3 separate regions of the Homo sapiens genome follow, and all the other regions are linked to region 2. Evidence: fine-mapped expression QTL. A gene starts in region 2. Each other region holds a variant in brackets. All regions are shown on one strand. Distances are from middle to middle. Region 1 overlaps LOC105370029 (a long non-coding RNA gene). Region 2 holds the start of UNC119B (unc-119 lipid binding chaperone B). Region 3 overlaps CABP1 (calcium binding protein 1).

Region 1 (2,673 bases), 26 kb before region 2:
CATGCGGTTTTATTACCTTCTTTAATCCTCACGTCTGCCCTCTGAAATAGAAACTATTCCAGGCCAGGTGCGGTTGTTCACACCTGTAATCCCAGCACTTTGGGAGGCCAAGGCAGGTGGATCACTTGAGGCCAGAAGTTCAAGACCAGGCTGGCCAACATGGAGAAACCCTGTCTCTACTAAAAATACAAAAATTAGCCAGGCATGGTGGTGCATGCCTATAATCCCAGCTATCTGGGAGGCTGAGACACGAGAATTGCTTGAACCCAGGAGGCAGAGGCTGAAGTGAGCCGAGATCATGCCACTGCACTCCAGCCTGGGCAAGAGTGAGACTCTGTCTCAAAAAATAAATAAGTAAAATAAAGTATTCCAGTCATGTGCTACATAACATTTCAGCCAATGACGAACCACATACACGATGATGGTCCCGTGAGATTATAATATTGGCTGGGTGCAGGGGCTTAGGCCTGTAATCCCAGGACTTTGGAAGGTCAAGGCGGGAGGACCGCTTGAGGCCACAAGTTAGAGGCCAGCCTGGACAACATAGTGAGAATCTGTCTCCACAATAAATAAATAAATAAATAAATAAATAAAATTTTGTGTGTGTGTGTGTGTGTGTGTGTGTGTGTATATATATATATATTTTTTTTTTGAGACTGGATCTCACTCTGTCACCCAGGCTAGAGTGCAGTGGTGCGATCTCGGCTCACTGTAACCTCTGCCTCCCGGGTTCAAGCGAGTCTCCTGCCTCGGCCTTCCGAATAGCTGGGATTACAGGTGCGCCCCACCATGCCCAGCTAATTTTTGTATTTTTAGTAGAGACAGGGTTTTTCCATGTTGGTCAGGCTGGTCTCGAACTCCTGGCCTCAAGTGATCCACCCACCTCAGCCTCCCAAAGTGCTGGAATTACAGGCATGGGCCACTAGGCTGGCCAATACTGTGTTTATACTGTATCTGTGTTTAGATACGCAAATACTTACCATTGTGTTCAACTGTCTACAGTATTCAGTAAGGTAACATGCTGTAGAGGTTTGTAGTGTAGGAGCTATCAGCTATACCATATAGCCTAGGTGTATAGCAGGCTATCCCCATCTAGGTTTGTGTAAGTACACTCTGTGATCTCTGCACAATGACAAAATCGCTTAATGATGCATTTTTCAGAACGCATCCCTGTCATTAAGTGACTCATGACTGTATCTCTATTTCACAACTGAGGAAACTGAAACTCAGCGAAGTACATCACTTGCCCAAGGCCACACAGTGGGTAAATGGGACTAGGCATGGGATGCAGGCAGCCTGTCTTAGATCCCACGCTCGGATCCCATACCCTGCCTCCAGGGTCTCAGACTTTACGTTTTACTGAAAAGACAGCCTAATTCATGAGCAGCTGGATCTCAGAAAGGGAGCCAAGCTCCTTGGTACACAGATGGCCCAACCA[C/T]GAATGGTATCTGAAGGGCTCAATAACAGGAGCCAGCCGGGTATCTTCTTCACCCTCTGGGGTGACCAAAGACACGAAGGACTGAGAGAAAGCCTTTAGAGGCCTCCCCCAAAATTTAATCCGTTTTTGTGATTGTTTCTCCTGGACTAGACTGCCTTGAGGATAAAATAAACATGAGCGCCTGGTGGCAGTGCAATACCTGAGTGGTACGTGGGCTCTGCAGGCCAACTGCCTGGAGGGAGGAAGCCCCATCACCACTACTTGTGTTTCTGTTCCCCATTTGCACCACACCCCTCCTTTGAGGGTAACTGAAGCCTCTGAGTTGTCAAGATCCTTAAAAGATGACAGTTTGAGAGAGAGAATAGTAGAATTAGAAACCCCAAGAGGCCAGGTGTGGTGGCTCACACCTGTAATCCCAGCACTTTGGGAGGCCGCGGACCCCGAGGTCAGGAGATCGAGATCATCCTGGCCAACATGGTGAAACTCGGTCTCTAATAAAAATAAAAAAAACTAGTTGGGTGTGGTGGCGCGCGCCTGTAGTCCCAGCTACTCAGGAGGCTGAGGCAGCAGAATCGCCTAAACCCGGGAGGTGGAGGTTGCCATGAGCCGAGATTGCACCACTGCACTCCAGCCTGGCGACAGAGCAAGACTCTGTCTCCAAAAAAGACAGAAAAAAAAAAAAAAAGAAACACCTTGGACAGGAAACATGTCTATGGGAGGAAGTAAGGCCAGATGCTTGCAAAATAGGGGGGAAAGTGAGACCGGGAGGGAACACTTCCAAAAGTTACCCCCATGGGGTCTGAATTTGGGGCCTGGGAAGGAATTTGGGTGCATTTAGATCCACCACTGATAGTCTCTATTTTGGCACCCTGTTTTGTTCCCGTATAGCACTTACCACTGTTCTAACTAAACAATTAATTTCATTATGGGTTGTGCAAAGTCTATGATTCTCATGCGGGACCCCAGGTGTGTTTTTTGTTCATGTAGCACAAAGCTCATTGCCTAAGTAGTAGGTAGGATTGGTAGATAAAATACAAGAAGTCCAGTTGTTTAAATTTTAATAAACAATGCATTTTTTTTTTTAGTATAAGTGGGTCCCATTTGCTTATCTGAAATTCAAATATAACTGGGCTTCTCCTATTTTATCTGCCAAATCTGACAACCCTGGTAGCAGGGACTTGATACATTTTTTTCCTTTTAGGGAGAATTTCTAAATCGACCAGTATTTATGGAAA
Region 2 (2,673 bases):
GCACAGTAGGGCTTACGGATGGCAATCTCATTGGAAAGTTTGTCTTGAAACTGCCTTTGCAAAACAAACACTGCTTTAACTTACCTTCTATGCTAAATATATTAATAAACATTTTCTCAAGATGCATTGTCCACTAATAGCTTAGTGTTGAAGAACAGGCCTTGGGTCAGATGGACCTGGATTAAAATCCCTGTTCCCTCCTCTTACTGCTTGAGGGACTTTGGACATGTTACCTGACTTCTCTGAACTTGAGCTTCCTGATCTGTAAAATGGAGACAGTAATACCTCACAGGGTTGTTGTGAGGTGAGGAGCCTGCCCTATAGCAAGTGTCCTGCCATATAGCAAGTGCGCAGTAAACACTGGCCATTCTTCTTCTTGGTGTGATTACTGGGAATTAGTTGCCATTGTGCTGTTGGGACTGGTGACAGAACTCTTGGATTGAGAATGCCGAGATGGTGCACGGAAGATTCTGTGTGCTCTTTCAGACCAGGAGGAGGATGAGGAGGAGGAAAGTTTATATGACGTAAATTCATTTGACCGTAAGATATGTATTTAAACATCGTGGAGGATCTTGGGGGTCTGATGGGGAGTGGGGTTGCTGAAGCTCCAGCCACCCCTAGGCCCTCCACCTGGCAGGACCAAAGTTGGGGCAGTAGCCGAAGCACCGCCCCCCGGGCCCCGCAGGAGTGTGCAGTCACCCAGTTAGGCCTATCTTGGCCTGCCCATCACTCCTGGCCTGCGGTCTCCTAACCCTGTGGCAGCAGCAGCATTCCCTGAATGGATCGAAGGCTGCCATGGTGTCGTCCGCTGAATTGCTATAGGAGTCAGCCCAGGGCTGCTCATGTGCACCTCAGGTTGCTGATGGCAGCTCTAGTTATTTGGGGATGGAAGTTTGGGGAGAGTGGGCCTTGGTCCACCCTGTGCGAAAGGGAATTCCACAGCCCCCCGGGCGCCCGCCCCCGCCCCCGCCCCGCCCCCTCCCCGCCCCTTCCCCGCCGGGCCCCGGGCCCCGCCCCCGCTCTCCATAGTTACCGCGCTGTGGAGGCGGCGGCCATCTTGGCGGCGGAGCGATGAGCGGGTCTAACCCGAAGGCTGCGGCCGCGGCGTCGGCGGCTGGGCCCGGGGGGCTGGTGGCTGGCAAGGAGGAGAAGAAGAAGGCGGGCGGCGGCGTCCTGAACCGCCTGAAGGCGCGGCGGCAGGCGCCCCACCACGCGGCCGACGACGGCGTCGGGGCAGCGGTCACGGAGCAGGAGCTGCTGGCGCTGGACACCATCCGGCCCGAGCACGTCCTGCGCCTCAGCCGGGTCACCGAGAGTGAGTGCCGCGCGGGCCGCGCCCTCCCCTCGCGCCGTGCCCCGGCTCCCGGAGCCTTCAGCGGACCCGGCCACTTGACCAGCGCGGGGGTCCCCGCCAGACCCCCTCGGCCGGCCGGGCCGCGCTTCCCGCTGCCCCGCCGGCCGGGCTTTGCTCCCGCCACGCTCACGTAGCTCTGGTGGGGAAGGACTCTCCTGGGCTGGACCGCATTCCTGTGAGTCCGGCCACGCTAGGATGCCCTTCGGCCGGTCGGCTCCCCAGCTCTGCCGGACCTGTTTGGGTAGAGGGCCCCGTTCAGCTGAACTGGATCCTCCTGAGCCGGCCGGGGGCCGAGGTCCCCTAATAAATGGGCCCCTGGGCCCTCAGCCTGGAACCCCCGGCCATCAGTGAAGTTCCCGCTCAGCCAGGCTCCCCCAGCCCTCTGGCAGGCCAGAAGCCTTACCTGCTTCCTCCGCCCTGGCCCCATGGCAGCCCTCCCCCATTGCAGCCTGCCCGGCCTCCCTCCCTCTTTGGGTCGGGAGCGTTGCCCCTTAGTGTGCAGATGGGTTCTTCCTCAAAACACATAGCCGTGGCATTTCCTGCTCATTTAAAACTGTGCCACATTAAAACAAAAATAAAGTTTCAGTTTGTGTACAGACTCCGACATGTGAATCCTGCTTTTGACATTCTCGTGAATTAAGAATGATTTCAGAGTTTCAGAAATGCGTTTCCTGCACAAAAGGCAACCATCCTAAGCTTTTTCGTTGATAGGAGGATGGGTGGGAAGAAAAATGTTGCCCAGTCCCTGCCCTGGGTGATCTCCCTTTTTCTGTTCTCTGCCAAGCCAGTCCCTGACTTGACGTCTTTTCTCTTGCTGCTGTTTTCCCTGCAGGAGTGTGCACTCACCTAGTTAGGCCTATCTTGGCCTGCCCATCACTCCTGGCGTGCAGTCTCCTAACCCTGTGGCAGCAGCAACATTCCCTGGATGGATCGAAGGCTGCCATGGTGTCTGCTGAGCTGCTATAGCAGGCAGCCCAGGGCTGTTCAGGTGCACCTCAGGTTGCCGATTGCAGCTCTAGTAATTTGGGGATGGAAATTTGGGGGGAGTAGGCCTTGGTCCACCCTGTGCGAAAGGGAATTCCCATTTCCTAAAAGAGTTTTAATTTGATTCTAGATATTTGGATGCCCCCGTTTCCCAATACTGTTTGGGTTGAGACTGTCCTTACCAGACCTGAACGTATCTTTAGACATTCTTGTTAGTTTTATTGAAACAGTGTGAAAAAGCTTCTTTTCTTCTGAACCAGTTTTCATTTGGGGCTCTGAAAGTACAGATGCTCAGCACCTGGTCTTGGTAACCTCATGCCCTCTCCTGCCATCCA
Region 3 (2,646 bases), 43 kb before region 2:
TCTACTAAAAGTACAAAAATTAGCCAAGCGTGGTAGTGCACACCTGTAATCCCAGCTACTAGGGAGGCTGAGGCAGGAGAATCGCTTGAACCCAGGAGGTGGAGGCTTCAGTGAGCTGAGATCGCATCACCGCACTCCAGCCTGGGTGACAGAGCAAGACTCCATCTCAAAAAAAAAAAAAAAAAAAAAATGCTGAGAGGTGAGAGAGAGAGTGCGCCAGCTGCACTTGAGGGGCTGAAAAGATCTGTGTAGTTGGAGCACAGAGGTTGGGAGTTAGCCTGAGAGATATGGCTGGAGATGTCAGCTGGCGCCAGATCAGGGAGGGCCATGAGGCTGTGTCAGGATATTGGAGATTTTTCCAGTGGAGAGCTGTGGGAGGTTTACGCAGCGGTCAGATCCGCAGATTAGAACACTCTCGCTGGCTGCTGTGTCCATGGATTGGAGAGGGCGGAATGGATGGGGGACCAGCACAGAGTTGGGGCAGTGGCAACAGGGTGGGGTCTGAAGGCAGCAACCTGGGGAGGCCTCTGGCTGCTGCTTGCTCCCCAGCTGCTCCTCTACCCTTCTAGAGTTTGTCCGGATGATGTCCCGCTGAGGCCGCGAGGGCCCCTCCAGGACTGCCAAGCTCCCAAAGGCGGGGCTAAGAGGAGCTAGAGCTTGCCTCACCCGCTGTAGCCGCCGAGAGCCCAGGATGTACTGGCGGATGGGGCCTGCCTGCACCCCGGGGAGGCGCCCACCCCGGACCCCCACCCCTCCGCACTGTGAAAGACTAACTCCTGCAACTGGAAAGCGGGGGCGCCCGCCGACGAGGAGGCCACCGTGCCAAGCCGGCAGAGGTCATGCCAGGCGCCAAGGGCCATGTGCCCAGCTGCTGCTGGCTGGGTGGGCCAGGGAGCCCGCCAGCAGACCCCACACAGCATGTCCGCCCCAGGGCAAAGCCTCCCACCTTCGCTCTGCGCCCGTCCCAGCTCGCCTCAGCCCTGTTATCTCAGAACCAATAAAAATATTTCCAAGAGCAAGACAGCCGTGATGGTCTTTCCTCCTTGGGCCTGGTTAGATGACCCTCACATTTCCTGAGTACCAACTGCATGCCCAGAACCTGCTGATCATTTTTGCATTCAGCATTTTTTGTTTGTTTATTTATTTATTTCGAGAAGAAGTCAAATGAGGGTTCTTTTGACCTTCCTGTGTTTTCTGTTTTGAGACAGGGTCTAGCTCCGTCACCCAGGCTGGAGTGCAGTGGCGTGATCTCAGCTCACTGTAACCTCTGCTTCCCAGGTTCAAGCGATTCTCCTGCCTCAGCCTCCCGAGTAGCTGGGATTACAGGCGCCCGCCACCACGCCTGGCTAATTTTTGTATTTTTAGTAGAGATGGGGTTTCACATGTTGGGCAGGCTGGTCTCAAACTCCTGATCTCAAG[G/T]GATCTGCCTGCCTTGGCCTCCCAAAGGGCTGGGATTCCAGGCGTGAGTCTCCATGCCTGGCCAACATGCATTTATTGAGTACCTATTATGTACTCAGTGACTTCCATTCTCATCCGTGGGCCAGAACCTGGGACTGCTAAGGGAGACTGAAGAATGTAGTTAGTTATTTAGCTGGGTACTCAGCTTCCCCAAACAAAATCAGGTTCTATAAGAAGAGAAGCATCCAGCAGAGTCTGTATCACTTCTGACTTTCTGGAACTTTTATACTGGTTGGAGAGACAGGCATGAGAGAAACACATCATATAGGATTACAAATTGTGATACTGCTATTGAGGAAAAATATAGGGACCTTCGGCAGGATATACTAAGGAGGCCTGGCCTCCTGTAGGGAGGTCAGAAAAGGCTTGCCCAGTGAAGTGATGTCAAGGGTTTTGCTCTGGAGGAAGTCCCAGTGTGTGCGGACAGACAGATATAGACACAGCTGCCACTGGCTGCGCGCCGTGGCTCATGCCTGTAATCCCAGCACTCTGGGGAGGCTGAGGCGGGAGGATCACCTGAGTTCAGGAGTTCAAGACTAACCTGACCAACGTGGCCTGTCTCTACAAAAATAGAAAAATTAGCCGGGCGTGGTGGCATGCACCTAGAGTCCCAGCTTCAGGAGAATCGCTTGAACCCAGGAGGTGGAGGCTGCAGTGGGCCGAGATCATGCCACTGGGTGACGGAGCGAGACTCCGTCTAAAAAAAGAAAGAAATAGCTGCCATCCTCTCTGCTGAGTGGGAGGAAGATGTGTAGCCAATAGGCCCAGGGTTTGCTTGCTGTGTGACTTAGGGCCAGTCGCGTCCCCTTTCTGAAGCTCAGTTTCTTCCTGTGTAATGTGGGGATGATAAAGGATGGGGTCAGTGCATAGCAAGTGCCCTCAGGGCATTGCACCACACGGCACACCCCAGGGACTGCTATTCAGACTGCAGTGGAATCATGCAATTGAAAAGACCCATTGTAATTCGTTTCTATAAGTGAAGTCTTAAAGCAGCCCAAAGGAGAAATCTGTGGGTAGAAGTTGTCGAGTCTTAGACAGGCTTGGAGCGTACTTGGGCAGGTGTGTGGGGTGGCCGGTGTACCTCAAGCCATTGGTTCCCAAATCTTAGCATACAGCAGAATTGCCTGGAGCATTTGTGAAGCCCAGATCTGGGCCACCCCCGCAGTGATTCTGATCCCATGTCTGGGG

What was found.
Region 1: its variant is fine-mapped to the expression of UNC119B in tibial nerve (GTEx, PIP 0.92).
Region 3: its variant is fine-mapped to the expression of UNC119B in tibial nerve (GTEx, PIP above 0.99).

Annotation. Positions count from the first base shown.
Region 1 is chr12:120,683,435-120,686,107 of GRCh38, forward strand. The region is part of intron 1 of LOC105370029 (a long non-coding RNA gene); the gene reads right to left. Among named protein-coding and RNA genes, the nearest start is that of MLEC, 2.4 kb to the right of the region's middle. RefSeq lists a silencer at 1,630-1,719. The variant C/T (reference allele first, on the strand shown) is at 1,439.
Region 2 is chr12:120,709,404-120,712,076 of GRCh38, forward strand. It overlaps UNC119B (unc-119 lipid binding chaperone B), which reads left to right and starts at 1,055. Exons shown (of 5, transcript NM_001080533.3): 1 at 1,055-1,315. The coding sequence starts at 1,072. LOC124903036 (a long non-coding RNA gene) reads right to left here and starts at 1,103. Exons shown (of 2, transcript XR_007063491.1): 1 at 1,034-1,103; 2 at 530-871. RefSeq lists silencers at 945-1,004, 1,095-1,364 and an enhancer at 972-1,814.
Region 3 is chr12:120,666,306-120,668,951 of GRCh38, forward strand. CABP1 (calcium binding protein 1) reads left to right here. Exons shown (of 6, transcript NM_001033677.2): 6 at 570-1,019. The coding sequence ends at 595. Among named protein-coding and RNA genes, the nearest start is that of MLEC, 20 kb to the right of the region's middle. RefSeq lists enhancers at 404-925, 926-1,446. The variant G/T (reference allele first, on the strand shown) is at 1,420.